Regions from separate parts of the Homo sapiens genome. Here all the other regions are linked to region 3. Evidence: fine-mapped expression QTL. A gene starts in region 3. Each other region holds a variant in brackets. All regions are shown on one strand. Distances are between the middles of the regions. Region 1 overlaps GOPC (golgi associated PDZ and coiled-coil motif containing). Region 2 overlaps GOPC (golgi associated PDZ and coiled-coil motif containing). Region 3 holds the start of GOPC (golgi associated PDZ and coiled-coil motif containing).

Region 1 (11,185 bases), 43 kb before region 3:
TCCCAATGTTAAACATCTGGTTATAGATATGAATCCATTACTGTATTAAATTTGCATGGATAGGATTTTACTTAGGATTTTTACATTAATATTCATTTGTGGGCCAGGTGCAGTGGCTCATGCCTGTAATCCCAGCACTTTGGGAGGCTGAGGCGGGCGGATCATGAGGTCAAGAGATCGAGACTGTCCTGGCCAACATGGTGAAACCCTGTCTCTACTAAAAATATAAAAATTGGCCGGGAGTGGTGGCTTGTGCCTGTAGTCCCAGCTACTCGGCAGGCTGAGGCAGGAGAATCGCTTGAACCTGGGAGGCGGAGGTTGCAGTGAGCCGAGATCGAGTCACTGCACTCCAGCCTGGCAACAGAGCGAGACTCAGTTGCAAAAAAAAAAAAAAAATCTTTTGTGAATCAGGGCTTTTCTTTCTTTGTGGCAATCTTGATCAGATATTATTAGCTTGACAGAAACAATTTAGAATTTTTCTTCCCTTTTTTGGTTCTCTTGCTAGGCATTAGAATTAGCTGTTGTTTGAACGTTTAGTAGCATTGCCCTGTGAAATCATGTATTTTGGTAATTTGTGGGGAGAGCACTTTGACAATTCCTTCAATTTTTCCTATGGAAATTGGTTTGTTTAGATTTTAAAACTTCCTTGGGAACAGTTTTGGTAAATTACATTTTCCTAGAAAAGTTTTCAAATTTATTCCTATAGAATTGAACAAAGTAGTCCATTATTATCCTTTTAGTTTTCTCTTTTATGGGTATTTCTCTCTTATTTCTTGTTTTGTATATTTGCATTTACTCCCTTTTTTCATGACTAGTTTAGTCAGCAGTTTGCCTTTTTCCTCTGAAAAATCAGGGTTTTTTTTTGTAGTTCTCCTGTTTCAGAAGCCAACAACCCATTTGTTACTGCCTTAGGCAGAGGTTAAAAATGCCCTCAACCATGGTGAACATGACAGTAGAGGGCACCTAGTGAGCATGACACATCCTCAAATGTCACAAAAGGACACAAATATCCTTGTTGCAGTATTGCTTCCTAAAGAATATGGGGACAGTATGCACACAAGCAAGAAATAACTTATTCCGTATTTGGTGGGGGCAGGGGAATGCTATAGTCTTGACGATCTAGAATTCTACTATGTAACTCTAGGAGTTCTCTCATTCTATAGTCACTCCACTACAGCCAAACAGTTTCTTGTGAAATTCAAACCCAGCACAATCATCATTTTTAGAAATCAAAACTGTATCAAGCCAAGGGTCCATCAAACCGTGCACCTTTTAAGAAAACTTTAGAAAAATTCTACTGCAGTTGGCAAGCATGGAAAAAATAAAAATAATTGTTGGAATAGGAGGACTGAAAGCTGACAATTTTATCTATATTTCCCCTTTCCTTCTTTGTGGCCTATTAAAGTAGAATTAAGAGAGGGATTTGAGTCTTGGCTCAGACACTTAACTAGCTGTGTGACCCTGGAAAAATCAGCCTTCAATTTATTGATCTTCACAGGAGTATTTTATTTGATGAGTTTCAAAAAGCCTTACACCGCTAATAAAAGTAAAATTAATAATGCATCTGGAATCTGCTGCCCCCTGCTGGCAATTTACCAAATTGCAAATTCTACCTTTCCAACGCATAGACTCCAAGTTTTAGTGTCGGCCTATATTTTATCTAATTTTCCTTGTTATAGTCCATTACCTATCTTCCTTTTTTAAAATATATTTTTATCTTTATAGGTTTAGGGGGTAGAAGTGCAGGTTTTGTACATGCATATATTGCGTAGTGGTGGAGTTTGGGCTTTTAGTGTAACCATCACCTGAATACTGAACATTATACCCAATAGGTAATTTTTCAACCCTCACCCACCTCCCACCTTCCTATCTTCTGTAGTCTCCAACGTCTATTATTCCACTCTATATATGTCCATGTGTACCCTTTATTTAGCTCCCACTTATAAGTGAGAACATGTGGTAGTAAACTTTGTTTCTGAGTTAGTTCACTTAAGATAATGGTCTTCAGTTCCATCCATGTTGCTGCAAGACATGATTTCATTCCTTTTTTCATGGCTGAATAGTATTCAATGGTATATATTTACCACATTTTCTTTATCCAGTCATCCATTGATGGACACTTAGGTTGATTCCATACATATCTTTGCTATTGTGAATAGTGCTGTGATAAACATACGAGTGCCAGTATCTTTTCAATATAATTTCTTTCTTTCTTTGGGTATATGCCCAGTAGTGGGGTTGCTGGATCAAATGGTAGTTCTATTTTTAGTTCTTTGAGAAATCTCTATACTGTTTTCCGTAAAGGTTGTACTAATTTACATTCCCACCAACGGTGTAAGTGCTCCCTTTACTCTGTAGCCTCCCCAACATCTGTTTCTTGACTTTTTAATAATGGCCATTCTGATTGGTGTAAGATGATATCTCATTGTGGTTTTAATTTGCATTTCTCTGATTAGTGATGTTGAACTTTTTTTTTCATGTTTATCATCCACTTGTATGTTTTCTTTTGAAAAATCTCTGTTTTTTGCTCACTTTTTATCTTCTTACTTAGACGCCAGAGGTATTTCTTTTACAACCAAATGCCCTCTTAAAACTTTAAATCAAGCTTGTTGTTCAAATCTTCCTTCTTTCCTAATTTGCCTGAAAGTTTTGTTGCAATCTCCCACTATGATGATAGATTTAACATTGTAGTAAATTGGTTCTTTAAGAATTTAAGTAACCTTTATCCCTAATGGTTTTTTTCTTAAAGTCTGTTTTTAAAAAATATAACTGTATCCATGTTCTTTTGGAGAAAATATGCCCAGTGTATATTCTTTCTCCTTTCACTTTCAAATTTTTTATGTCCTTATGTTTTAGGTATGTTCCTTTTAAACAACATATTGCTGGATTTTTTCCAATTTAAATAAAATGTTTTCTAATTTCAGTTCTTTCTTTTAATAAGTTTACACCCTGATCAAGCACTCTCAAAAGTCAATTCCAGACTGGGCACGGTGGCCAGTCTAATCCCAGCACTTTGGGAGGCGGATGGATCACCTGAGGTCAGAAAGTTCAAGACCAGCCTGGCCAACATGGTGAAACCCCGTCTCTACTAAAAATACAAAAATTAGCCAGGCGTGGTGGCACGCACCTGTAATCCCAGCTACTTGTGAGGCTGAGGCAGAGGAATCACTTAAACCCAGGAGATGGAAGTTGCAGTGAGCCAAGATTGCACCATTGCACTCCAGCCTGGGCAACAAGAGTGAAACTCCGTCTCAAAAAAAATAAAAATAAAAAATATAAAATTCAGTTCTAGGAGTACTCCTTTGGTTTTTGCCAGAATGTGCTAGCTAATTCTTACACTTTTTGTGTAGTTTCTTTTCTCCTTTATCAGGCCCAGCACATCTCCCATCCTGGCTTTACTAGGATTTAGCCCTAGTTACAGGCCTGGCAGCAGACTAGGTAGGGGCAGGTATTGCCTTAGGGATGTGGTTAGTAGCAGCCTCTGTAACATCTTGGAGCATAGACAAGGTACAAGGTCTTATTAGAGAAGCGTGGGCTTCTTCTTAAGACCAACAGTCCAGTAGAGATTGCAAAGTCTCTCAGGTGCAGCCATCCAGATCTCCCCATGGTTCTAGGTTTTCCTCACCAGGGCCTTGACTTTCACAAAATAGAAGAGGTTTCGCTGAACATTCAAGTGTCTGAAACTCAGCAACTCTTAACACTTAGGTGTTCAGCCTGAAGCTCAGCTGTTTCAATCCCTCCATTGTAGGAGGTAAGGCCTCCTTGGGAGCTGCCCCCCTCCATCCATTTCTGTAGGTCATTAATACAATCCTGCTGTAACCGGCCAACTCTGCTATTCTTGTAGATGTTGTTCTCCCACATTTTTCAAATGTCTGCATCACTGACCCTCCTGGAGAGTTCCCCTCTCCATAAGCTGGATTTTTTCCAATTTAATAATTTTTTCCAATTTAAATAAAATGTTTTCCAATTTCAGTCCCAAGTCTCCAAAACTCTCCCCAAGTTGAGTGGTTTGCTAGGACTCATCAGACTAAGCAAAGCTTTATTCACAATTATGATTTATTACAGAGAATATAAAGCAAAATGAGGAAAGGGAAAAGGCATATGGGCACAGTCCCAAGAAAATCAGGTACAAGCTCCAAGATTCATTTCCCAATGGAGTCACACAGGACATGCTTAATTCCTCTAGCAATAATGTGTAACAATACATCAAGTGTTGTCCACCTAGGAAGCTTGCCTGACTGAACCTAGGAGTCAAGGTTTTAGGGAAGTCAGTGTAGGTACCCTCTGCCTAGCATGTACCAAAATTCTAGATTCCCAGAGGAAAGTAAGTGTTCAACAAAAATCCTACTGTTTGTACAAACACTTCAGGCACAGTAAACCGCACTTACCAGCAAGGGGATAATGGGAATACTCCTGATATCCAAATTGCTGGACGCTAGCCAAGGTCCAACCTTGCAAGCAGACCTAAAGACAACAGGTTCAGGCCTGTTCTGTTAACTCTTTTCTGCACACCATTTGTGAAATAGCCACTGAGCCATGATTTTGTGCCAACGACTAGATAAACTATACTCACCAACCAGATGTCACTGTCTTTACCCTTTGGGTGGGTTCCTAATGCCCATCTTATTACCTGTTTCCTCAAATCTCACTCATGGTCACTTGTGTTAATCTAGCCTCTCTAAGAAGCAGACGCCAACACCAAAAAGGGATCTGCTGTGCAACAGATTTATTAACGGCAATGCCAGTGAGGAAAAATAGGTAGGAAGCTGGAGTTGATTGGAGGCTGGAAGGCAATGAGATCACAATGGAGTTAAGACCCAAGGTGAATGAAAGGAGGAAGGAAGGTTGGGTGAAAGCAACTTGGACTACAATGTAATCCTAAGGGAGTTTGGCAAGACCATCGTGGAGTGCTCCAGCTAAAGTTGAGGAGTCATCATATAATATCCCTGTCATAATCAGTCACTGACTGGCAGCAGCATGGAGGAGCATAGCCTCACCATGTACACAGGGATGGATTTCAGACCACAGCAGCTGGACCTTCAGTAAGCTATGCTCCCTCCTGCACGAGAACTGACAGATGCATTCTCATGGCTGCTGCCGTGGTGATTATAGCTCTCAAATCACACCTGAAAAAGGTTCATTATTGAACAAATATTCAGCACCAACAGTGCACGGTAATTTGCAATACTTTTAAAGTGTTTCTTTAAGGTTAGTTATAAAACCACCTAAAATAAAATACTGATTAACAATGAAAATACAAGTTCTCTTTAAAATTTCATAAACTGACCAAAAAAAAATTCATAAATTGACCAATATCCTATGGGGTTGTATTCTGGGGAAAAGACTTCTTTTCAAATCACTTGGTGAATTGGGAGCTTAAATCAACACACGGAAAGCATATATGTATTAGCACTAAATCAAGGTTAGTCAGTGACAAAAATGTATTTCTAATGTTCATAACATTTCTAAATGTTCATAACTCAAGTAATTCATTTACAAGTATTTTCCAAAAATTATTTTACATATAACTTAGGAACTTCTAAATCATATATACTTAGATGTCAAAATGGAAGAATACCCTTTTAAATAGTATCTTAAAAACAGGATTGATTTTCTAACTTTCATCAATGTTTTCCTCATAGATAACAACAGCTGGCAATATTTATAACACAAAATTAAGCCAAGTCCTTTGCACAGACTTTATGACATGTTGGTACAAATAATAGAACTACTAGAAATAAATAACAAGCCAAAATATTTAACGTCAAGGAAACAAAATGTTTATTTAAAAAAATGAGATCAATATCATTTTAATGTAGAAGATGCCATCTTTATTTACAGGCTAATAAAAAAATATTAAACTCAACTAGATATAATACATTATCATAAATGCAATAGATTTGAGGCCAACCATAAGTGTAAGACTGGATAGATGGAATAGGGATTACATAATCAGGATGTCAAATACTGTGCATCTTACACATGAATCACATGAAACCTTTTTGTTTCTAAACATGAAAACAGCATAAGTCCACTGCAGTGGGGAAAAAAACAGCACCACAGACAAGCTGTGCTAACTTTCGATAGCTGTTGACTTGTAATTATCAAGACTCACAAAATTTTCGTCTTTCTCAAATTTATTTTAACAATAGTCTCACCACCAAAATGTTGCTTTTCCATCATATTCATAACAGAGATACTGTAGAAGAGAATTTTAGAGGTTAAGTGTAAATATATACACGCACACATACAACCCTCACATTTTATTAAAACGTTTTCTCAACCATTCTGTTTGTGTATACATGTGTGTATTTCTCCTTCTGTCCCCTTCTCGATGAAATGGCTTTGCAACAGTTCCCTCCTTACTTGTTTGGTTTTGTCCTAGAAGTTTCAGGGACATATGAATTTCTTTCCTATAAATGTGAAAATATTAAAATTGGTTCTCAGTCCTTTGGAACTAATAACTAATTCTTAGTTCATCCCCAAAAACCATACATTCTAAAATGAACTTTTAACTAGTTACTTTCTAACACCGGACAGGAAGCTCACAGTAGCATCTGAGCAACGGTGCTCTCCCGTAGGCTTATAAACCACAGTGAAGCAGGAATGAAAAGGAAACTGACCTGTGGAGTTTTAAACTACCTGGAAACTTTTCATTCTATTTATCAGTCCTTAAAAGGAATTTATATCATGACAATCTCACACAATTCTTCAAATTACACAGTGACCTCATAAAAATTCCAACTTGAAGTTTTAAAAAACCACCTCTTCATACACTTATTCGGTAGTTCTTGAAAATCAAAGGGTTATAGCTTACATTTCCTAAGGATTCAGTCATAGCAGATAAAGGATGTTCTCTGAAAAAAATGCCATGGCCATTCCATCCCAGGCTGTGTTTTAAGAAGATAAGAATAACATGGTTTCATGTCACAGCAAAAAGGTTTTCGGGTCTGCTACAATGGACAATTTTTTTGACTAAATAAATACGGTGGCTAAAATCCAGTTTGCAGATCTCATGTCATGCATGGAAGGTATGTGTTTGGCATAGGGGATTCATAAAGAAAAAACAAGTTGTTTTTTTTCTTTTAAGAGGCCTACCCTGTCAAGAGCAAACAATAACATGTAACTTGCTTATTCATTTGTACAATTAAATACTAGCTTTTGCTCAGAGACAATGCTATAAAGTATTTTAATGTCAGTAACAATATACACTACGAAGTGCACTTCCATTACAAATTAACATGGTGATATACAGATGAACACCACCACCCAAAACAAACCATAAATGAGCAACAGTTAAAACATTAAATTTATAAATAGCAAAACCACAAAATAAAGTATATACATTTTATAGATTTACCCTTGAACAAATATAT[A/AT]GTGTATCTGGGAAAGCCAAAAAAAATGTGTTTTATCACATAACATCTGAATACCAGAAATGAAGATACTGATAATATTCTAAAAGCCTTGTAGGCTTTCTCCCACTTAATATTCCTTTAACTGTACGTCCTTTAAAACAGTGATATTAGCAAAGCTATCACCTCTTTAATGCAATGTTGTGACTTTGCCTAGCAGGTTACAATGACCTGCAGAATATTAAATCAGAGAGGAGGCACTCCATGTTTAATCATGGGACAACAGACCTAACAAATTTATAAACCTGCATATGAAGAGAGCTTTAGTCAAACATAAACTGACATGAAAACCCAACCAAAACAATTACTGTATCAAAATGTCTTTATCTCATCTTGCCCACCTTTTAGATGACTGGAAATCATTTACTTAGAAAGAAAACTGCCGTTTGATTTGAATGTACTGTGTTTCATGACATAGTAATAAATCTGAACTTTTACTACCAGAAAAATTTGTCTTTAAGTGCCAGGACTATCACAAGACAAACTTTATGAACAACTCAAAATGTATAAAACTGTCTTTTGTGGACCCCAGAAAACAAGCATTTGAGGCTCAACATGAATGGGTAAATGCTCCAGTACTGCGCACACAGATCAACATAATTGAGAACAGATGTTTTACACTCATCTGCATTTCTTTTAAAAAACAAAAAAAGTAAAATGTTTAGTAACTTTTGAGAATCTATTTCTAGTGCAGCATTGATTGATAAAAGACTGCTTAAAGAAAACTATTTTGTACTGCATTGAATAAAGCTGAAATGCAAACTCATTACAATAAATGATCATTAATAATTGGTTTAGATTTTAGGATGCACAATAAATTTTTTTAAGTCTAAAGCCTTTCAGTTACAAAAATTAAGTCAAGCCTATATTTCTACAATTCATTGAGTCAAGCTCTGTCTTCTGAAATACCACAGTTAACATTCTAGAATATAAAATATGAATTCACTTACTCTCTGTATTTTAAAGGGTACTCCTTATAAAATTCCAGTTAGCACTGTCCTCCTACTAAAGGGAAAAGGAACCAAGTAAAACAGTAGGGTTTCATTTGGTACTTAAGAGCCCAGTAATACCCCTTTGGGAAACACATGCTTTGGTGCTTACAAGTTCAAGAAAATCAAAATTGCTTTACATGCAATAGCTAATTATGGTCTACCACAGAAAACAGGGTGTTTTATGCATTGAGAATTGTTCACATGAAGCCCTGAGGTACCCGCCTTTCATTTAGGCAACAAACAGCCTCCCCTGATTTTGTAGTCTTTGTCACCATCTTCCCCAGTGCCCCAAATTCAGAATAGTCTGATTAACAATCTTGTCTGGAGATATGGTCAATTTAATAAGATTTTTTATGATACAGAGTGTGCAGATCATCTAATTTTGAAGCACCGTCATCTAGCGGAGTTTCACTTGCAGTGCCCAGGTCTCCATTTTCATGTGTGTCAGTTACTGCCTTCTTATTAAATCCTGAAAGAAAGGAGAAAAAAAAAGCAGACACTTTCTGGTTTAAAAAGTTGGTTTTGGTCAGGTGCAGTGGCTCATACCTGTAATCCCAGCACTTTGAGAGGCCAAGGTGGGTGGATAACCTGAGGTTAGGGGTTCGAGACCAGCCTGGACAATGTGGTGAAACCCCGTCTCTATTAAAAATACAAAAATTCGCCGGGCATGGTGGCACATGCCTGTAATCCCAGCTATTTGGGAGACTGAGGAAGGAGAATCACTTGAAGCCAGGAAGTGGAGGTTGCAGTGAGCTGAGATCGTACCACCGCACTCTAGCCTGGGTGACAGAGTGAAACTCTGTCTCGATTAAAAAAATTAAAAAAAAAAAAAAAGTTAGTTGTATAAGTTTATTGAGTGAAAAACAAAGGAATGCCCAAGTAATTAACATTAGTAATCTGAGGCAAAAATAATGCCTTATATTAATCAAATCAGTAATTCCTAACAGGGGAATTCTTCCCTCTTATGGCAGGTATCAAATATTGTACAGATTTAAAAATACTATATTGGGCTTATGTAAAAATTGTATTAAGTTTCCTATCAAGTTTTCCTTTCCTTTTTTTTTTTTCTTTTTTTTTTCTGAGACAGGGTCTCACTCTATTGCCCAGGCTGGATTGCAGTGGCATGATTACGGCTCACTGCTGCCTTGACCTCCTAGGCTCAAGCAATCCTTCCACCTCAGCCTCCTGAGTAGCTGGAGCTACAAGCATGTGCCACCATGTCCAGCTATATTTTAAAAATTTTTTTGAAGAGACAGGGTTCACTATGTTGCCCAGGTTGGTAACTCCTGGCCTCAAGCGATCCTCCTGCCTTGGCCTCCCAAAGTGCTTGAATTACAGGCATGAGCCACCATCAAGCTGTCTGTAAGACTTAGAAGTAATACATATAATTGTAAAATTCAGTCAATTCTACTTATATAAATATCTACTGAACTGTGAATTATATTTTTATTTTTCATTGTTGCTTTCATATTACATTAACTTCAGTTAACTGAGGCATATACTAGTTAATTGCTTAAAATGTAATTTGTTGGCAAGATGATGTCTAGCTAAAACTTAAAACGAATTCTGATCATCTATAAAATAAATAATAGGCTTATAAATAAATAAGTGTTGACTATATCACCTATTTAGGTGATATATATATCTATAAAGTATAGACGTGTGAAACAATAACCAATAGATACATTTTTTTAAGTGAGTCAGTTAAAAGATATATACACACAAATTTTTAGTTGAGTCACATTTTAAGTGTCTGCAATTTGCATATGTGACAGAGAAGACTTCTAGCCTCAGTTACAAAAAAAAGGAAGAGACAGGCTTTCTAATCCCGACAGAAAACAGCAAGTGTGAAATACAATGAAACCATATGGAGAGCAGCCCAACAATTAAGGTTTTGACATACTGCCACAATAGTTTTGCTCAAGATGCACAGTGAAAACAGTAACTGCTACTGCTATCTTTGTGCAGACAGTTTACAACACACAAGTTTATCAAAAGTGCAACAGTTTATCAGTTCACCATAAAACTCCATGCCAGGAGTTCAACATTTTGGTCTCAGGAGGCCTTTATACTAAGCATTGAGGACTCCAAGAAGCTTCTGTTTATGTGGATTATAGCTACTGATGTTTCCCATATTAGTAGGTAAAATTGAAAAATCTAAAAAAAAATTCATTTCTTTGTTAAAAATGACAATAAATCCAGAAGGTTAATATAAATAACATTTGTCTAATGACAAATAACTCTATGTTCCAAACAAAAAAATTCTAGTTAGAAGAGTAGCATTATTTTACAATTTTACAAATCTCTTCAATGGCTTTGTAGATGATAGCTGTATTTTCATATATCTGCTTCCATTCAATCTATTACAAGTATATGAAGAAAGTTCAGCCTCACACAGATATGTAGTTGCTAAATGGAAGAGTATTTTAACAGCCTTTTCAGATAACTGTCAGTATTGTTCTCTGATATTATACAAAAATTTGACAATGTGGAATTTGAAACCTTATCAGTGAACTTTTCACACTCTGTTATATTAAAATCCATTTGCCTATCTTGCATTTTGAATGGATCTTTTCCCATGCAAAATTTTATAACTTCATTTACTGGTGATTTGAAAAATATTGGACCATGAAGTTATGTAGCAATTCCAAAAGTTGACACATTTCACTTTACTGTATCAAAAAATCACATTCATTAATATCATCATCAATCTCATCAGAAAAGCTTAAGTGTTAGGAAGCTGTCAAGCTCATGGTGATCAACGTATGTTTTACAAAGTTC
Region 2 (11,185 bases), 31 kb before region 3:
GTTAGCATAGTATACAATAAAACAATAAACAAGGGAAAGCTCTTCATTCCTTTGATTTCCTCACAAAACAGTTTTACTGAAGAAATTCTGAGGCCTTCACATTTTAAACATTTAATAATAATGAATATGTTAATAATAATTTTTAGAGTGATTTTTACCTTGTAATACTTTGATTTCCCCACTTGTGTCTTTGCAACTAGCACCAGGGTTACCACCTCCTTCTAACTCATCAAGGTACAAACGGTAACGATGTCCACTCTCATCTTCATACTCTACGTTTTCATCATCAGAATCCACTTCAGGAGCCACATAAACTACTTCAAATTCAATCTCTCCTCTCTAAAACAGGAAATGAAAATGAGAAAGTCAAGTTATTGTAATTGTAATTTAAAAAGGATTTCCAAATTCTTTGTGGGAAGGCTTAGGGGTAGAGAGATCTAAGAGATAGCTGATTTCCAGAAAATAAATAATAAAATTCTAGAATCTAAAGAGGTAGTGAGGCCATCATGTCTGATCAGCCTCGTGAATCCTCTCTACAGTTCCTTTAAACATTATAGTAGCTCTTTCTACTGACCATAGTCTTTTTGCTAATAGATCTAAAATTTAAGAGGATGCTTAATTATTAAATTTATAGAATTTTGGAACAAGTATTCAGTTTTAAAGTTATTTGCTACTTTGTACTGCACACAGCAATTCAGCAAATACATCTAAATAGTCAGATATTAAATAAGGATATCATACAAACCTTTCCTTAACTAATTCAAGAAACCCCTAGAAAATGATTTTTGTACACTGCCATAAGGACATCATATAAATCTTTTCTTAACTAATTCAAGAAACTCCTACAAAATGATTTTTTGTTTCTTATTCAATAGGTCTTGAGTAAGAACTTACACTGAGTACCAGACACAGACATAGTGTTAATCAAGGTATTCTGTCTCGTACTAATAGTAATTACTATATTTATATATTTACTATAAATTATAGCCTTCAATCCCCAGAATAATCCTATTATAGTCTCTTTTACATGAACGAGAAAGCTGAGTGAGTCCTGCAGAAAGCAGATAACTTTCCCTACATAATGAACAAGAATAAAGAAAAACAAAAGTTTGACTCTGAAGTCCTTAATCTTTATATTATGCTAGACTAACTGTGTAATATTTGTACTGTCATTCTTTAACAATGAAACATTCAAGTAAAAAGTTACAGATCATGCCAGGCACAGTGGCTTACACCTGTAATCCCAGCACTTTGGGAGGCTGAGGCAGGTGGATCGCTTGAGCTCAGGAATTCTAGACCAGCCTGGGCAACATGGCAAAACCCATCTCTACAAAAAAAAAAAAAAAAAAAAAAATTAGCTGGCCATGGTGGCAGGCATCTGTAGTCTTAGCTACTCAGGGGGCTGAGGTCGGAGGATCTGTTTGAGCCTGGGAGGTTGAGGCTGCAGTGGTCCGTAATTGTGCCACTGCACTCCAGCCTGGGTGACAAAGTGAGATCCTGGCTCCAAAAAAGAAAAAAATGTTACAGATCGTTTTATGTTAAAAGAAAAATTTCCAAGCTATAATTGTCATTTAATAAGAGACTCCAACCACTACATATAAGTGTGGTGTTGGCAATTCTGAAAACTATGGCTTGCCTTTGCTCAAAAGAAAACACGGCATTTTTGACTGCTACTCACTAAGTTAGTCTCTTTGGTGCTCTTCTTTCCCAGCAGTTTAAGGTTATACCTCAGAATTTTAATATGTGCTTAGTTAGCATTTCCTTAAAACTTATGGCTGCCCATTGATAGCTCCTTCACCAGTTATCCCACTCTTTTGCTACTGGATGACAGTCAAGATGGATTGATAAAACACTAACTTAAGAGAATAGCGTAGCATTCTTAGATCTCTCTTGTCAGCTAATGCTTTAAAAATACCATTTTGCAGAAAGAGACAGATGATGCAGTGGTCTTCAGCAAAGTTTTAGATGACAGAATTAGATCTGTGAGTAGCTGTCATGGAGACACAGATTTCAGGCTTAATATGAGAAAAAGCTTTCTAAAAATCAGTACTGTATTACAATGGAATGGACTGGTTGATATCAGCAAGTCTTCCCTGTAATGTAATTATTGAAGTAGTGATGTTGCAAAGATTTATGCATCATATAGAATTGAACCAATGAACAATATTCACTTTCAACTCTGAGATGCAATTCTACAGAGGCATACCACACTGATAATCCAAGAAACATCTCAATGTACTACCAATGCCTCTAATTCCCTCAACTCTATTCTTGAAAGAAATAAAATAAAACAACATTTTAAGTACAACTGTATGACAAATATGACTCCTGAGTATGAATCTCAATTCTATAATTTATTTGCTTGGCAACTTTGAGTAAATCCTTTCATCGCTAAGAACTTTAGTTTACTCATTTTAAGAGAGTTGGGCTAGATAGTTTCTATGTGTGATTTCAATTTTAATATTCCATGACTAAAATCAATCTACTTCTAGCACTGTCTTTTCTGTAATACCTTATATATAGTGTTCTAGGCATTAAGGATGTTGTTTTTTCAGTCTCAGGTCCTGTTCTGAGTACTTTATATGTATTAACATACTTAATCCTCACAGCTTTCTTTCAATCCCTCCCACACAGGTGAGGACACTGAGGGACAGAGGACTTAAGTAACTTGCTCAAAGTTATGAAGTAAACAAAATGGAATGGTCCATTTTCAGTAAATCTGACTGAATGTCAGCTATAAAAGCATTAAATCAAAGGAAACAAGAACTATGTGTAAACACTTTACTACTTTAGAAACTTCGTAGGGAAGTATACAGTGTTCAATAGATTCATAACCAATTGATAGATCCAGTTCTAATTACATGAAGGGAATTTACCTGCTGAGAAAGAATAGTTACAGCTTCTTTATGCTTTGTGTCCCTTAGGTTAACTCCGTTGACTGCCAAAATAGCATCCCCAACGTGCAGCCCTCCGCATCTATCAGCAGGTTGCCCCGGATGGATCTCAGAGATGAGGATTGGAACACCATGTTCTTTCCCACCCTAACAACAACAAAGGGCAGTAAATTAAAGTACTCTTTGTAAGGTACAGTTACCGATTAATCTAGAGATAAAATATTTTCTTAAAAATATATTTCATTAAACACCTATGCTGTCTCTATAAATGCTGGGTAAAATTTTATTTGCTACTTAAGTAATGGTAAAAATTATCAGAGTATTGAACAGAAATTGGCTAAATTCTTAAATTAAAAAAAACTTATGTGTTAGTACTCCATAGCACCATTACATTTTATCAAGTCTAAATCACTACGAATGACAAGACCAATTATTTTAGGTGCCACAAAAATAATTTTAAGATTATAAGATAAATTTCAATTTCAGAGAAGTTAAAATATGAAAATATATGCAATGTAGAATTGAAAAAATGCAGTATTTGGTACCTATCACTCTCTAGCTTATATCATTGTTGCGTGTGTGTAGGGGTGTGTGTGTGTGTCTTATTTGTCCTGCTAAAATGTATGCTCTTTGAAGGCAGCACATAAAAAAAAAAAAGGTAAGTATTCAAGAAATATAGATTAGATGAGCTTTTTATTATAAGAAACATTTCTACATTAAGCAATACTAAAAAAACAAATGATCTTGCTCAGTGCCTAAGTATTACCAAATGAAAATTAAAGCCACCTTATTCATTAAAGCACTGAGATGACAACAAAATGACTCCTAAAGGCATCGAATTTAAAAAAAAGAATATATAACATTTGGACCCAAGAGCCAGTGAAATCTGACAGCTAATAAATGAGGCAAGAGAAAGATACACGTACTCCGAGAGAGAACAATACAATCTGAAGCCATTTAACATAGAAGAAAACAGCCACGTCTATTCCCAAGGGCTCCTAGAGGCATCACAGTATATGGCACAGAACTATTAAGTGAATCATAATAAAAATGTTAAACTATGCTTACTAAAG[G/T]TACACTTAATAGTTGCTAGGAATATTTATTTCTTAAAAAAATATTTACACAAAAGCAAACATTTATCCCCATGGGGATAAATTTTAGTTATTTAAAAAATATATCCAGAATATTCTGTTCCCCAGTGATGTCCAACAAAGGAGCATGATTATACTAGATAACTGTAGAAAATGATACTGGAAGTACTACTTCTTACTGTAATTGAAATGCCAAGGCCTTCATGATCTTCCTTAAGGAGGAGAACTTTTCTAATTGGACCAACACCTTGGCTTTTCTTTAGGGAATCTTGATCCTTATTGGGAGGAAAAAAGAAGAAAAAGTAGTATCATTTAAATAGCATACCAAATAGAGTAAACTCATACTATATAACTTGCTTTTAGAAATCTGTATTAACTTCCTGGAATGGATAAACAGTATAGGGTTAAGAAAGTAACAGATAAAATGGAAAAATGAAAATAGCTATTCTGTTGATGCAAAATTTATAGATGATATTCTCACCCTTTTGCCAATAATGTTTAAAATATTGATACATCTCTTTTTAAATTGTAGGGCATTATAAAAGAAATGATTTCCAGGAATTAATTGAGGAACAAATATCCTCAAAAAATAAAAGTGTCTATCTTCACTGGATATCTTTAAGATATACATTCATTTTAGCTGAGTTGTAGAGTTGAAAAACAAATTTCCAATTGGACCATTAATTACTTATACATTCCTTGGTGCTCTGGAGTCTACCTCTTAAATAAAGGGCCTTGATCCACTAATAATCTTTTCTCTGGTACCCTTACTCTTTCTGTCTCTACTAAGCTGTTTTCCTACTCAGCAGATAAATGAATCACAAGCCTCTTCCAGTTTTAAAATACTGATCATGTGCAAATGCAAAACAAAACAAAAAACCTTTCAATCCTTCACTATCTTCCTTAGCAACTACCATCCTCCCCCTTTCCTTAACCTCTACACGAAGTTCATCCTCATCATATCTACTTCCTTGCCACTCACATTCAGTCCTCTGGTCTCTGTAATTAGAGTTTTGCCCCTACATGCACAACTGGAATTTTCTTTTCTGTGGTCACCAGTAATCAATATTGTTACACACAATTAACACTTTTTGTCACTATCCTACTTCAAACTTGCAGAAAGTTGATACTGTTCATCAACCCCTCCTTGAAACCCACTCTCTCTGTTAGTTTTTATTACACTACTTTCCTAGATGGCCTGTATCTGACAGCTCCATCCCAGGCTCCTTCCTTTAGTGATCCTTTTCCTTCTCCCACTCCATAAGTTTCTATCCTTGGCCTCCTATTCTTTTTACTACATATATACTTTATATATACATATATACTTGGAACAGGCTTAATGAGTTCCAAGGTTTCAAGTATAATAGAAGGATAGTTTCCCTAATATTTCTTCAAAACAGATTTCTCTTCTGAAATCCAGAGTCATATGTCCAGTTGGATGTATCTTGGATACCCCATTGTCACCTCAAACACTACTTGTCTAAAACTGATCTCATCATCTTTTCCCCAAATCCTTCCTTTTCTTCTATTTCCCTTCCCAGTGAATGCCAGATCTCACTCAGTTGCTCAAACTAAAAGCCCAGACTCTTCTTTTTCACTATTTAACCAAAAGCAGTTAGTCACCAATCAAGCCCTCCTGATTATAATCCTCTCAAATCTATCCTTCTTCTCAAATGCCACTTCTCCTGACCTCATCACTTTCTCCTTGGATGACCATAGTATCTTTCTAATATATCTCCTTGACTCCAACTTGGTCCTCTTCACTATACCAAAATAACTATTAAAAAATGTAAATTTTATGAAGTCTGCCATTTTATTTAAAACTTCCATGATTATCAGGTTAAAGTTAAAATTCCTCTATTTAGTATAAAATAATTTCTATAATCCAGCCACTACCTAAAACCCCAACCTCATATTTAGCTAATTTAACAAGCATGCTTTTATCACTCAGACACATCTGATACAAACTACTTTGTCTTCCTCCTAACCGCTCCATTTCCCAAATCTACTGGACCTAGAAGTTAATGGGAACCACCAGTGCCCTAGAAAACAATGGCATAAGTGCTTATCGCTATCCCCACTTCTCTTCCACCAACTCTATTTACATACCAATTCTTCTTACAAAAATCTTTGCAGAGCCAACAAACTATTTTACTATTTAAGGCCATACATTATCTGGTACTAAGATATGTGAACCCTTGGGAGACATGCTTTCATATATTAAGGTCTATATTATCAAGCAGCTGTTATGATAAAATTCAATAAAGATTTATCCAGATAGAAGCTTTTATATAATGGTGGCTACAGAAGCAGACAACTGGCTACAGATCTCAAATTCTATCTTAATCCAAGACCAAACAGGTGTAAATGTTAGTTCAGAATCTACATTTGGATTCAGTTACTAAAAGTTCCCTTAAAGAACTACCCCAAAATATCTGCCAAATTATCAATATGACCACACACTCTAAGCTAAGATTAAAACAAATTCAAGCATGCCCAATCATGATCCAGGAAAAACTGGAAATATGATCCAACATTATAGCAATATGCATTTGCTAACAATGGCTCACTGTCTGCAGCACTCTCAGGGCATTAGTAAGTCTGTGAAGAGCTACTAAAATTTCTATGGGTGTTGAAACTTCATCTACTTTGAATAAGTTGAATCCCATTTTCACTTTTAAATAAAGGTTTCAAACAATACTAGAATAAAGGAAAGAATGGAAAGCAACTGTGATTAAAGAAAGAAAGAAGAGGCTGGGTGGGAAGCAGCAGCAAAGCAAACATACATGGCCTGGTGGTGCTTGCATTGGTCGTTTCAAGTCATTACGTCCTCTGCAGGCTCGGATCACAGTTTTGTGACGATGCAAATGTATTTCAGCTTCTAATTGGTTCCAAAGCTTATCATGAGCAGGTCCCTTCATATCTCGTCCTAGCAATTGTATCTGTTGGACCCTTCATATTGGGAAAAGAGTACATTGATTTTTCATTATATTCACTACAGTGAGAATTCAGGAAAATTAGTGAACATAAGTAGCTTTTGCATGAATCTCAAATTAGTGATAAAACTAATACTCACGAACTTCTTGATGTCTCTCAGATATAAAAAAAATATGAAAACTCTGAAAAGAACAGGTATCCTCAAGGGAAAAACCAGTAAAAAAAATTTTTAAAGGAATTAATGTGAACTCCTTTAGTCATATACTTAATTCAAATAAATCTAAAAAAAAATTTATGAGATTAATGTCAATCTATGTCTTGCATGCAAAGTCACTGAACTCAGATACTATTAAATGTTAGCTTTTAGATGAGATAAATGGACAAAAATATTTCTTCTAATTAGAGTTTCTTTTCACAAAATGATTACTTTAAATGTGGTTAAAAGTTACTAGAACCAGCCAGGGCAACAAGGCAAAACCTTAACAATTAACCAGGCATGGTGGCATGCCTGTGGTCTCAGCTACTTGGAAGGCTGAGGTGGGAGGATCACTTGAGCCTGAAAGGTGGACGCTGCAGTGAGCCAACGTTGCACCACTGCACTCCATCCTGAGCGACAGAGTGAGACCCCATCTCACAAAATTTAAAAAAAAAAAAAAGTTACTAGAAAATTTGTACTTCAAGATGATATAAATTATTTTTTCTTTGTTCCATGTTTTTAATGTGACATTAAAAGAATATGCACAAAATGATTTAGTACTAATAAGTCACCAAAGTTTGTTAATAATTTACTTAATAAATACAGCAGAATTCTGTGTATGATTATGATAAAATCATTGTCATTAACTAAATACCAACACGTTTTTTTGAAGGGCAAGAAAGACTGGGTTTCAGTGATCATAAAAAGAATTCCTTATGGAAGTTCTGCTATGCATGTGAATATCGGCTGTACTGGTCTCAAGGCACAAAATAGTTGAAAAGTGCTGCTCTACAGAGTTGTTAGCATTTCACAGTAAGATACTATCAGTGTTTGTGTGTGTAAACTAAACATATTTAGTATGGATAACTAGATCTGCGATACATAATGCTGTCAGTATTAATTTAACAACAGTAAGTTAAAACCAACTGTAAAATAATTCTGAGGAAAAAGATTAATGCTTCATTTACCATAAGAAAAAAGAGTAGGCCAGGTGCGGTGGCTCACACCTGTAATCCCAGCACTTTGGGAGGCCAAGGTGGATGGATCACAAGGTCAGGAGTTTGAGACCAGCCTGGCCAACATGGTGAAACCCCATCTCTACTAAAAATACAAAATTTAGCTGGCCGTGGTGGCAGGCACCTGTAATCCCAGCTACTCAGGAGGCTGAGGTAGGAGAATCGCTTGAACCCAGGAGGCAGAGGTTGCAGTGAGCAGAGATCATGCCACTGCACTCCAGCCTGGGCAACAGAGCAAGACTCCATCTCAAAAAAATAAAAAATAAAAAAAGAAAGAAGTAAGAGTCAACCTCATTAAATATCCAATTTGTCACTTAAGAGTACAATAATACCCATTTTTTACACACCTTCCTGCCAGTTCCTTATCCAAGTACTTGGCAGCTAGTCTCGCCCCATATACTTCAGCCTGGAGAACAGCTATATGTCTACGAAGGGCTTCATTCTCTTTTCTCAACAATTTCACTTCAGCTTCAAGTTGTGCTTCTTTCATTTTTTCTTTTTTGTTTGCCTCAAGCTCTCTTTCCTATGTAATTTTTAAAAGCATATAATTTAATGAAAATAAAAACTCTTTAGCACTAGACCATGTTCCTGAAAATGCACAAAAGCCTACAGTTCAACAATGTATCATCTCTATAAAATGGAACACAAAGATCTGGATGTAGTTCTTTTGAACTAGTACCATAACATCTTGGAACTACTTCTAGATAAAATAATTGCACGCCATGGGTTACCCTGATATGGAGTATAGTAAGAAAAGTAGTCTACTCTAAGCTCATGTTATCACATATTAGTAAAAGTGGCTTCAATGGATAGTTGAATCTGCTATTTACTTCTAAAACCCTTTTGAGAGTTAAATAAGGACCCCAATAGACATTTTAACTGTTATTTATAGATCAAAAAAACCACGTAAACACTGAAAACTTGCATTTATCCTGAGCAGAACTGCTTTTACAGAATCCACAAATCCTATGAAAACATGGTTACATTTGTTCACAATATGTGGAAGACATTATTCCCTATACCCCCTTTGTCCCTTTTGTGAGGACGTAAATAAAAACCTACCTTAGCACCAGAGAAATTGTTTCTCTTGAGGAAATGATGAATAGTATTGTTTCTATTGTATGGGCACTGATTATTTTACATAATTATTTCCCTTTTTATTCTGGATATTGAGAAGCTAAGAAACAAATTTAAGCAAATTTTCAGCAATTCATGGAATATATTTTGGTACTAATTTAATGTGCCTCCTTTGGTCTACTGTTTTGAACAACATCAAAATAGATATATTTGAATACTAGTCAATAAATACGATAATCCTAAAAAAAATATATTTACATATACACACACACATACAAGCTAAAATTAATGACAACTACTAAATGCTAGATATATTTATCACTTCTTTGATTAAAAATATTTGTTATATATATGACAAACAGATGAAAGATTAGCAGACTCAATTTCTGGGAAAAAAAAGATTAGAACGTAATTTCTAGATACTGGTTTTAAAGGATTCGAAAAACTCAATCTAGAATCCTCCTTTTAACATAATTTTGGAATTATTAAACTCTTATTTCAGAACCTATGTCCTAAAAGGGCAAGTATCTGTTTCAAAAGAAACCAGTTTGGAGATACAAACAAAAATCTTTCTTATGACATGTTAAAGTTGATGCAACTTTTGAAAGAGCACTCCTAGACCAAGATTTCTTTGGCTTATGGGCTAAATAAACTTTATGTTGATGATTACCTACTTTCAATTACTTTAATGAGCTATTTATACTACATTAATGAAATGTGGGAGACATACTAAGCTACCACTCACTGGGGTTTTAATGATTCAAATCCCTAATGAATCTGACAAACTCTTGGGCCCGAAATTAACAGAGGTAAGCAAGAATAAGATGAAGGAAACTGAAGTTAACCATTTCTAGATTTCCAGAAAAAAATTTTCTTGGTTCTTAGTTAACCTGTTTGTTACTAGGTAACACCCAAGATGTTCATTTTACATTTAGATACCAAAGATTATATCTTCAAAAGAGGTAAAGCCATAAGACAAATTGGAACTTGATTAGGTTGGGGTAATGAGAAAAATATTAAAAATGTATTGTTATTTTCTAAAATAACTTCTGCTAAAGCATTTCAAAATTCAATTGTTTCAAAGGCCATACGATTATTCTCAAGACTCTTGAAAAGTTGTAACGCAGTAGATGAAGAAGAAACCAACATGCACATTCTTTTCTGGAAATAATTTCAAACAGAAACTTAAGGGGGTTAAAAACTAAGCCTGCTTGATATATCTTCAATACCCTGAAGTGGGAAAACCAATTGCTCTTTGAAGTAGAGGTATGAGCAAGCTACAAGGCTCAAAAATTGTCAAAAATTGACAGGCTCTGCAAATAATGGCTATAAATCACTAACAAAAGAAAAATGTTTAACAACATGCAGTGAGAAAAGAGCAATGGGCCATCCACTGAACTTTTCAGGTACTGGAACATTAAAAAATTGCCATTATTAATGCTATTTTCAAATACAATGAGTGACAACATATAATATGCAAATAAAACACTAAGAACACTTCAGCGTGACATATTAAAGCAAAACAGAAACAATATACTTACCAGCTCCTCCACAGAGGGGCCAGACTTCAGATATAAGAAAAAAGTTTTATAATTAGAAAAAGATCAAACAAATGATTTTATTTAGTGGTATAGTCATTATAAGGAAAAATCCCACATGTTGGATATCATTTGGGTAAAGTTCATTAGAACAAATATATTTGCAATCTATAAACAATAGTAACTGTAATAGCATTAGATTAAAACTTTTTGTTTTATCAAAATTAGTCAACATAACTGGTACAGTGTTCTTTTCATCATACTCTTTCAAATTCTAATGTTAAAACTTCAGGTAAATTCTTTTCTAGAGAAAATTTAGATTGTTTCTGAATGTTAATGTCAAATAGCTCGAAGAAGCAGTTATGAGCTTTTATTTCAGTTAAATAAAACCCTTCTAACACAGATTCACAGAGTTAGAAAACTTAAGAGTTTAACT
Region 3 (11,185 bases):
GTTCTCAAAAAACTAAAAATAGAACATATACACTAGGGATATATGCCCCCTAAAAAGGAAATCAGTATCTTGAACAATATGTGCACTCCCATGTTTATTGCAACACTATTCACAATAGCCAAGATACGGAAGCAATCTATATTTCCACAACAGATGAAAAGATTAAAAAAAAAAAAGTGGTATATATACACAAAGGAATACTACTTAGCCATAAAAAAGAATGAAATCCTGCATTGAAGACCACATGGATGAGCTTGGAGGACATTAAGTAAAAATAAGCAAGGCACAGAAAGATACATAATGCATGTTCTCACTCAAATGTAGAAGCTAAAAAAATTGATTTACCAGGCATGGTGGCCCATACCTGTAATACCAGCATTTCGAGAGGTTGAGGCAGGAGGATCTCTTGAGCCCATGAGTTCAAGACCAGCCTAAGCAACATAGTAAAACCCCATCTCTACTAAAAAAAAAAAAAAATAAAATAGAAAAATTAGCTGAGTATAGTAGCTCATGCCTGTAGTCCAAGCTACTTGGGAGGCTGAAGCAGAGGGATCAACTGAGCTGGGAGTTGGAGGCCACAGTGAGCTATGATTGCACCACTGCACTCCAGCCTGGGTAACAGAGTGAGGCCCTGTCTCAAAAAAAGAAAAAAAAAAGTTGACCTCATAGAAGTAGAGAATACAACAGTGGTTACTGTTAAGTTGGGAAGGGTGAGGCGGGTAGGAAGATGTTGGTTAACACAGCGGTCACCAATGTTTTTGGCATCAGGGACTGGTTTTGTGGAAGACAATTTTTCCACAGGACAGCGTGGGGATGGTTTCAACAAAAGACATTAGACTCTCACAAGAAGCTGGCAACCCAGATACCTCGCATGTGCAGTTCACAACAGGAACAGGATTTGTGCTACTATGAGAATCTATATGAGAATCTAGTGCCACCACTGATTTGACAGGAGCCAGAGGTCAGGCTGTAATGCTCTCTTGCCCACTGCTCACCTCCTGCTGTTCAGCCAGTTCCTAAGAAGCCACGGACCAGTACTGGTCCACAGCCCGGGGTAACAAAATTATGGCTAAATAAGAGGAAAAAGTTCTAGTATTCTATAGCACCATAAGATGATTACAGTTAATAGTAGCTTAATGTATATTTTCAAACAGCTAGAAGAGCAGGTTTTGAATTGTTTCTAACATGAATAATGTTTGAGGTGACAGATATGCTAATTACCCTAATTTCATCATTATTATGTGTATCCAAATACCACACTGTGCCCCCTAAAAAGATGCGACTATTATGTCAATTAAAAATAAAAAAGAATAGCCCTAATAGCCTATTCAAGTAAAAAAGTAACCTATGATTTTTTTGCAGCAAAATTTAATATTTTAATAATAAATATAGTGTTTAATGTTAACTACATTATAAATTACCCAAATTGGAGGTATCTGTTTCTTCATTATATAAAAATATTTTATTACAGTAATATGATTAAAGGTATTAACCTCTGAAACCACTGAATGTCACGTTTGTCATATTAAACCATAAGTGGTTTCAAATATGTCTTAATGTCCATATAATTAAAACAATAGAACAAATTCAATCCTTTTCCTAAAAAGTAAAAAAGGGCAAGAAAATATGGAAATTGTTTCAAGCTTTCAAACAATATATGGAGCAACCACTGAAATTCTGTAGATGGAACAGCAGCAAGTCTACTTTGAAAGGCACTGCTGACAATGAACTTCTTTCCACAGCAATACACAATTGATTCCATAAAAACGGCAGAAGCTGCTAAACGTGTACAGATTAACATCAAAGACAAACAAGTTGACTGTAACTGAAAAAACACAAACAAATGAACAAACAAACCAAAATCATTAGGATTTTTCCCCTCCCCATTTTCCTATGATCTTTAAATCAACAGTTTCAAGCATAAAAAATATGCTCACATTGTGATATGCTAGCATTTCCTATTTTGAGAAACAATGCAACCTCCTAAACCAGGACATAAAGTCAGAATGTGTGATTTTAATTTCTGAAAAAAGAACATGCATAATTTATTACAATTCTGAATACTCATCTAAAATATTTAAAGACAAAAAAAATGGAGCACAGCCTCCTACTGAGAAAATTATCCTTCCTCCCAATTTCAATTTTTATATCTGACATCAAATCCCTGTTTAAAGTTTCCTTAGGTCATTTTAAAAATAAATAAAATATTGTTTCATTTTTAAAAAGTTGTTAATGCCCAGTTGATACTGCAGTTGTAAATGATATGAAATTTCTCGTGTGATGTTTTAGTCCACTTTCTGTTTCTTATAACAGAATACCAGAAACTAGGTAATTTATAAAGAAAAGGAATGTATTTCTTACAGTTATGGAGACAGAGAAGTCCAAGGTCGAGGGGCCAGATCTCGAGAAGTCGAGAGCCTTCTTGCTGGCAGGGGATCTGTGCAGAGTATGGAGGCAGCATAGGGTGTCACATGGCAAGGAGGCTGAGCATGCTAACATGCTTACTCAGGTCTTTCTTCCTCTTCTTATAAACCACCAGTTCTACACTCCTATGATAACTCATTCATCCATTTATCCAATAACAAATCAATCTATAAGTGGATTAATCCATTCATAAGAACAGAGTACTCATGATCCAGTCTCCTCTTAAAGGCCCCACATTGGAGATTCAATACTGTCACATTGAGGATTAAGTTTCCCATACACGAAATTTGGGGGACACATTCGAATTATACCATGTGGTAAAGGCTACTCTTGATCTTTGTTGTTTAAAGCTAGAGAACTAATGGCCAGGCACAGTAGCTCATGTCTGTAATCAAAGCACTTTGGGAGGCCAAGGCAGGAGGATCACCTGAGGCCAGGAATTCAAGACCAAACTGGGCAACAAAGCACTCCATCTCTTTTTTGAAAAAAATATAATAAGATAAAATAAGATGAAATAAAGTTAAAGTACTATTTCTAGAAAACATTAAATGCAATTTCACTATCTGAGAAAAATAGCTTTCTTGTGGAAATTACTACCAATAAAGAAATCAAGAGATGTTTTCATTTACCTACAGTAAGAAGTGATTACCTTCATATTAGCACTTTCTAATCTTTTCAAAAAGGATAGAAGAAATTAACAGTTCTCGCAGTGGAGAAGAGCCACAATTCTTGGATATGTAAATCTATGTTAATCAAAGATTAATTATGCCACATATTTCATGGCTAATAGGAGAGAAAGAATGCTGACCACTAGGCAAGGAGAGGATGTTTAACTGACATTCATATTGATATAGATATAATGGGCACTGTCAATGACAACGAGTAATGATGATTTCTTAGGAAAGCATGTTCAGAGTTTTGCACATCACTGATTATCCCATTTTTATCTATTACACTTTTTGAAAAGAAAGACCCATTCTCTTAAATTGCCTAGTTAGAAAGTACTCTTTATGCAATAATGTTAATCTATCTTGATTTCTAAATATTTTAATAATGTCCTTTTTAAATTTTCTGCACAATATGATATTTTTGTTTTTTTGAACCACAGCCACTCCACCCTCACCCACACCCAGGATCAGAGATTAAAGCAAATGATTCTTTACACTCTCTCAAAAATAAATCCAGACTTTGGAAAATTACACAGTAATGTACAAGCATATAAAAACTCAAGGTCAGAAGTAATTTCAATAATTGCAGGGAGCTCTCTGGAGGTATCTGCCTGTAATTTAACAACCAACTATGGATGTAAACCGAGACAGTGATACTATCGTTATGCACCACGAAATTTTCCTAAGAGCTTTGATCAGATTCCCCTAAATAGTTTATGCATGTCTCTGTATGCAATCATAGGCGCTGACCTGGAATAATTAAAATGAAAATAATCAGTGCTGTATCTGTCTTAACATATACAAATTCGGTTTATCAATGTGAAAGCAGATCTGCAAAACTCAGTTGTCAAAAGGTGGCCTACGGTATTTTCATGACAGAGAATCTTTGTTAGGTTTGTTAATGTAACATGTGCAATGGAGGCTGGTGTATGTAATTAGTTTCCTCCTCAGAGAGATACTAGGAAGGTGGACGACAGTACCCCGGGAACTCACACGTCGGTCTAGGGCCCTTTTTGTCCCCCACCCTCACCTCACTCCTCAGACATGCACTCTCCCATCACATTTGAAGCCCCGGTGGGCAGTTTTCTAGGGTCGTTTCACTGGAGCGTTAAATGGCATCTGACGCCACCGGGCAGCCTGGGGTTGGATGCCATAGCCGCCAGCACCCACGGCTCACCTCCAGCTTGTGGTTGATTTGAGACACAGACTGGGCTTTGTGGCAAAGCTGTGCAAAGCAGGAGCTCAGGCTGGTCATCTTCTGTCGCCCCTCATAAGTGATGTCCGCTTGGTCTGGATCGATCTCTCCCAGGAGCAGATCCACATCCACAAAAGCTTTGTCGAACTCCTTCTCCAGCACCTCCAGCCACCGGAACATGGATACCCCGCCAGGGGCCCCCACGGAGCAGGAGGCGCCCCCTGGGCCCCCTCCGGCTGCTGCTGGGCATGGACCGCCCGCCGACATGGCGCCGTCAAGGGCCTCTCCCGACTGCTGAAGACCCTCGCCGCCCCCCGCGCACGAAGGGAACTGCTGGGACTGAGGGGACCCCCGCGCGCGCGGGCACACTCCGTCACCTCCCTTCACCTCGCGCCGTTAACGCCAGCAGCACAGTCACAGAACCGCAGGAGTAACGAGGCTGAAGCTGAGGCGGCAACGGCGGCGACACACGGAAGACTCAGTCAGTCCCACCTCCCAGCCTGCCCCCGCTGCGCATGCGTAGCGAAGAGCTGGGCGGACGCAGCCACGAGGGACAAAATAGGCGGGGACAGGATGCGATCTTGGCCTATGAAAGGCCTCAGCTTGGGAGCGGCCTGTCAGCGGCCATATTAACAACTGGCAAACTACGGCTTGAATCCCTGAGAAACGGAGGCGCGTGGTTTCTGCACCCTGGTTGGAAAGGCCCGAGGATGAGAAAGGTGTCCACGTCGCAGAAAGGAAGGATTTCCGCCGGTTTGACTTAACAGTTGGCGGGAGCCGTTCCAAAATCCTCCCAGAAAGTTGCTGCGGTGGCATCTAGGGTCAGGGAGGGGAGAGCAAGGAAGGGCGGTGTGAGCATGCGCAATAGCCACGTTTTTACCTTCTCGATTCCAGTTCCTGGATAGGATGGAGTGGGTGTACACACTGGCTGTTCTTGGTAAACCAGACCCCAAATTCCAGGTGTGGACTGCCTAAAGCTGCGCATTGAAGCGGCTGACCAGATTTTGCGGAATTAATAGAAGACTTTTTGTCTTGTGATTAAGAGTCAGGTAGACCTGGATTCAATTCTTACCCTCTGTCACATACTACCTGTGTCGCCTTTCATGTATTAACCTCGAAACCAAGTTTCCAAATTTTACTTAACTCAGTTGTAAGGTAAAACGCTTAGCGTCACTTCTTGGCACACGGTATTCCTCTTAATACACCATAGGTCACACATTTCAAAAGCAACTACAGTAGTGCTTCACTTAAGATGGGGATATGTTCTTAGGAATGTGTCCTTAGGTTAATCATCCCTTAGGGAACATCCTAGAGTGTATTTAAACACAAACCTAGATAGTATAGCCTACTACACACCCAGGCTATATGATGTAGCCTATTGCTCTTAGGCTGTAAACCTGTACAGCATGTTGCCATTCTGGATACGGTAGGCGATTATAACACAGTGGTAACTATTTGTGTACTTAAACATATCTAAACATAGAAAAGGTACAGTCATATACTCTTATAGGATCACCATAGTTTATGCGATCCATTCATTGCTGAAGCCTTGTTATTTGGCACATAACTGTACTTTAAAAGGTGTATTTATTTGAAAACTGGTAGTGTCCTCACACGTGACATTTCAGAAAATCAAAATTGTGAATTCATATATTTACAAATATATTGAATGCAGAGCTCTGTTGCGACATTGAAGACACAAAAATGAATGAGACATGACCCTTACTCAAGATAGGCTAGTGAGGCTACTACCCCTCAACTATAACTTTAACTTGAATTTTTCAGTGCCTTTAAAAGTATCCAGCAACTCCTCTCTTTACATTCTGCCTACTTCCAGTTCAAGGGTAGACAGTCCTAGAAAGGGAAAGAGAAACCTGTGTGATTAGAGTAGGCTGGTGGAAACTCCTGCATTACCTAGAAGCATATTTAGCTGAGTGCAGTCTGCTGTTATCTGTTCTTGGGGCAGACCCTTACGGTTAATCACAACCCAAAGCCTGCATTGTGTGCCCTTCGCTGATGCAAGGCAACTGAGGAGCAAGAAATCACAATTTTATTATTGCAGTCTTTGTACTGCATGGCAGACTGGTTAGCATGAAGCAATAAAGTCCTTTGGCTTGAGCAAACTTAGCTAATCAAAATGGATCATGAGATCCTGACCTTAGACTTAAGTAGGGACCTTCATACAGGTTTTAGTACACAATAAATAATGTAAAACTAAAATTTACATCTTTCCCCATTCCCTTCCAAAATTAGCTTTATTTTCATCTACAATATTTGCAAAAACATTGCTACAGCTATCAAGCTCCCAGCCACTTTATCTACACATAATACAGTTAGCAATGCATTTTCAGGAACGCGAAGTAAATAATTTAAAATTAGCAGGGCAGGGGGAGAATACATCGAACCACAATTATAATAGCTTTCAATTATTGAGTCCTTACTATGTGTTAGGCATTATGCTATTTTCTTTAATTCTTTGATCCTTACAAAATCCTATGAGGTAGGTATGATCACGTCTTTTATTGTTGTTGTTGAGACAGGATCTTGCTCTGTCGCCCATGCTGCAGTGCAGTGGCACGATCACAGCTCACTGCAGCCTCACTTTGTTGACCAGGCTGGTCTGGAACTCCTGGACTCAAACAATCCTCCTGCTTAGGCCTCCAAAAGTGCTGGGATTACAGGTGTGAGCCACCACACCCAGTAATCACTTTTTAACAGCTAAAGTCACAGACAGCTTAAGTGTCTTGGTAAGGTCACAAAACTAGAAAGAGATTGAGGTAGTATATCAATCTAGGTGTCTTTTTCTCCTAAGTTGTTGCTGTTAACCATGTAATACAGAAGAATGAAGGAATCTATTTCTTCTTGTAAAAGTTAGCAGTATAATAAACTAGCAAGTAAGTTCCAAAAGTTCTTTTTAATTTCTTCCTAGTTAGAAACCATATACAAATCTATTAACATATAAGAACCATTACCAAAAATTGTAATAACTCATTTTCTATTACTTGTAACTCTAATTTATATGAACCACACTTGAGTATAAATTTCATTTCTTTAAAAAATCAACTTCCAGCTACATTGTGTGGGTGCAGCTGAGTGACATTTTAAGTGTTTATATGTTTCCAGTGCTCTAATGGTTTGTGGGTACCCCCATTTTCGAGATTGCAGAACCCAGCTTCGTATCTATTACCTTTACAACTTCAACAAGTCATAGACTCATCTGTGTCTCAGACGAGTTTCATGTCATGTTGTCCCTTCTCATTACTGTAGTATGTAGACATAATCTTTTGCCCACCTGGATTGAGGTTATGCAAATCTGCAAGTCACAGCAGAACATGGATGTGAAAAGGAGGGCTTATCATCGGGGCTTGATGTTCAAGTGCTGCCATCTGTTGTCGGTGTACTCTATCTACACTTACTGCCTTATCCTTACCTACTCTGGAATTGGAGATTGCATGTAATGTCAATACTTGAGCGATTTGTTTTTCCACAGATATTAAAGTCTTGATACTTCTATTTGCAGTTGGATTGGCAGAAGCTTCCAATAACTGTTTTATGAATCATGCTTATGTGATTTTTAAAAAATATAACTTAAATGTGACACTCTTGTTTTAGGAACTTATCCCTACAGAGTTTTGTCACAAGGCATTACTAAAAATAAATTGGTTGGAGACTGAGGAAATTGGGGAAAGAGAGATGATGCTAAGGGTTTCTTTGATAGGTACTGGTAATTAACTGCGGGGTCAGTGTATAGTTTAAATATTTATGGAGCATCATTGATTGCAAGGGCACTGTAATAAAAGGGTGTATAAGACCCACCTTGGACTGGAGAGGGAGATTATCACTTATTGAACTCTACTGTGTTCCAGGCCCTGTACCTAACTTCACGTGTTTCATTTAGTTTCCAGTAACCCTACCAAGAGAAGGGGTTAAGTATATGCTGTTAGTGGCTATAACAAGTTGTATGTATGGTGAATGAAGAAAGTAAAAATCCACTAGCATTTTATTTAATCAATGTAGGAAAGGTTTGGAGTGTTGTATTCATACATATTATTTATATTTATTGAATTTATTATTCATATTACCAACAGTTTTGAAAATTTCAGATACATATGCTAAAGAAGTAAGTTTAGGAATCCAAAGGGATTTATTAGCCTTATTCTCCTGATTATTTCCCTTATATAAACAAAGGGATCTGGGTGTGGCGGTGTGCACCTGTAGTCACAACTACTTGAGAGGCTGAGGTGGGAGGATTTCTTGAATCTAGGAGTTTGAGACCCTCCTGGGCAACATAATGAGATCATGTCTCAAAAACAAACAAAAAACAGGACAACTGTTTGCTCTCTTGTTTTTAAAACTTGAGAATTTTGGTACAGTGATTTAGAATTAGCTCAGACACCTCCTCTTCCAGGAAGCCTTCCTTCTTTCTCCTCATATGATGCTATGGGCTCCATCCCCAATTAGTTTCCTGTAAATATCTTTTACCGCATTTATCATATTATTTTGGAGCTTGTTAGACTGTGAGTTCCTTGGCAACAATAACTGTATCTTACTTATCTTTGTATCCCAGGTCCTAACACAGGACCTAGAATGTGGTAGGAATGCTATAACTATTTGTGTGATAACTTCAATAATTAAGGTATTCGATCATTCTACCTAGGAAACTAACAGTCACTTCACTTTTCAAGACATACTTGTGATACATGCTAGAGAGCATAGCTAAATATTAATATATTTTTATATTGCCTCAGAGATTAGGATATCTATAAATTACATATTAGTCTTTCTTTTCCAAACCTAAAGTTTTATTTTACAATGATCTGGCTTATTTGACTAATAAATCCATTATAATTTAGGCTTCAAGGATTCTTTTGCTTATTCCATTGTTAAAATTTACTAGATACTATGTTTTGTATAGTATATTCAACCTAAAACCAAAACATAATAAATTTTACACTATCAAAGACAGACTATAACTGCTTTTCCCCTTTTCCCCGATGTACATTCTTCATCTACCACTTCCCACAGCTCCAGGTTTGCTTCAGCCTTGTCTGAAACCACCATTTATCAACAGTAGTATCAGAGTTTCCTACTCATGTTTTCTTCTTCTTTTGTCCACTGTGAAGTCACTGTTTATTTCTCAAGTGTCAGACTGTATGGATCAAACATAGACTTTCCTTCATCACCTTCTGTTTTTTTTTTTATAAATTAGTCTACTAAGGGCCTCCGAAACAGTTGTATTCCAAATACCCTTCAACAATAATTATTTTTTCGAGTTTTGACTGAAAAGTATAAGTTATCTAATTAGAAATTTCAGCTGGGTGCCATGGCTCATGCCTGTAATCCCAGCACTTTGGGAGGTCGAGGCAGGCAGATCACCTGAGGTCAGGAGTTCGAGACCACCCTAGGCAACGTGGTGAAACCCCGTCTCTACTAAAAATACAAAAGTGAGCCAGGCGTGGTGGCACTCACCTGTAATCCCAGCTACTCAGGAGGCTGAGGCATGAGAATCACTTGAACCTGGGAGGCAGAGGTTGCAGGGAGCCGAGATTGCACCATTGCACTCCAGCCTGGGCAATGAGAGCGAAACTCCGTCTCAAAAAAAAGAAAAAAAAAAGGAAAAAGAAAAAGAAACTAAAAGTCAGAAAAGTGTAGTGAAACTATTACACAAAAAGCTCTATCACAACAATTGCTGGAGATAGTATTTGTTTTGTCCCCAGATGATTGTAACTCACTCAGAATTTGTTTGGCTTTTGTGGCCATGGTGAGCAGAGGGAGTTAGGATGAAAAGACTTCTATAGTGAAAATTTGTCACTACATGTGGGATACTCTCCATATTTGAGCTCCCTTCCTCTAGGGAATTTCCCATTTTATGTTACTTGGTGAGAGAGAGAATTCTTCTTCCATAATAAGCTGAAAATGTCAGATGATCACTTTCCTGACTCTGTGACAGGTAGAGCACAGGGCTGTGACCTAGACTCAGCTAACTAGAATTATCCACCTGAAATTTTTAACATGGAGATAGTGAGGCAGGATTGGGAGCATTCCTTTTGGTAGGGATTGGAGAGGGAGTGAAGATAGCAGTTTCAGCAGCAGCCATGCTAGTGTTGGTGTTGTGCTAGATTCAGGTTTGTGGTAGAGGCTGGTGCACTCGTGTTCTGTAGTGGCAGCAGGAATGGTGTCCTCACTCAACTGAGGTGCAATTTTGCAATTTTGCTTGTGATTCTGACTATGCAGCCTTCCTTTATTCTTGGCCATTTCCAATTCACATTCTCCAGGCATTCTTATACTTCATTGTGCTACCCAATTTTCTTTCAGTAATTCTTTTTCTGCTTTAATTGGCCAGAATTTGTTTCTGTTGCTTGCAATCCATAACTTAAACTGATACGCCAACTATCATTTGTTGAGATCCTACTTTTTGCCCATCAACTTGATAAACTTTAGTTTGCTTCATCTATTCCTTTCTCTAAAGTGGAAATTATTTCCCCCATTTTATCTTGTAGAAGAACAAACATGAGGCTTAGAGAAGTTAAGTAGTAGAAGAATTTAATTTTCTGTGTTACTTTCAACGTATGCTCTTTATGCAACGTGCTTCAGAAGGAGAAAATATATTTAAAAAGAATCATATACATAATTTGTTTAATCTTTAAAATGTCTTTTATCAGAGACAGGGGTTTTCAATTTTTTTTTTTTTTTTTTTTTTTTTTTTTTTGAGACGGAGTCTCACTGTCCTCCAGGCTGGAGTGCAGTGGCGCCATCTCGGCTCACTGCAAGCTCCGCCTCCCGGGTTCACGCCATTCTCCTGCCTCAGCCTCCCGAGTAGCTGGGACTACAGGCGCCCGCCAACACGCCCGGCTAATTTTTCGCATTTTTAGTAGAGACGGGGTTTCACAGTGTTAGC

What was found. PIP is the estimated chance that this variant, and not a neighbour inherited with it, causes the effect.
Region 1: its variant is the best candidate, but not a certain one, in a credible set for the expression of GOPC in whole blood (INTERVAL, PIP 0.87).
Region 2: its variant is the best candidate, but not a certain one, in a credible set for the expression of GOPC in whole blood (INTERVAL, PIP 0.67).

Annotation. Positions count from the first base shown.
Region 1 is chr6:117,554,512-117,565,696 of GRCh38, forward strand. It overlaps GOPC (golgi associated PDZ and coiled-coil motif containing), which reads right to left. Exons shown (of 9, transcript NM_020399.4): 9 at 5,758-8,873. The coding sequence ends at 8,743. It also overlaps a transcript of DCBLD1 not described here. Among named protein-coding and RNA genes, the nearest start is that of GOPC, 42 kb to the right of the region's middle. RefSeq lists an enhancer at 3,767-3,816. The variant A/AT (reference allele first, on the strand shown) is at 7,377.
Region 2 is chr6:117,566,696-117,577,880 of GRCh38, forward strand. GOPC (golgi associated PDZ and coiled-coil motif containing) reads right to left here. Exons shown (of 9, transcript NM_020399.4): 3 at 10,753-10,776; 4 at 8,482-8,657; 5 at 6,772-6,937; 6 at 4,165-4,260; 7 at 2,877-3,041; 8 at 159-339. It also overlaps a transcript of DCBLD1 not described here. Among named protein-coding and RNA genes, the nearest start is that of GOPC, 30 kb to the right of the region's middle. The variant G/T (reference allele first, on the strand shown) is at 3,968.
Region 3 is chr6:117,597,735-117,608,919 of GRCh38, forward strand. It overlaps GOPC (golgi associated PDZ and coiled-coil motif containing), which reads right to left and starts at 4,777. Exons shown (of 9, transcript NM_020399.4): 1 at 4,270-4,777. The coding sequence starts at 4,554. It also overlaps the pseudogene NEPNP. RefSeq lists enhancers at 4,659-4,748, 4,879-5,168.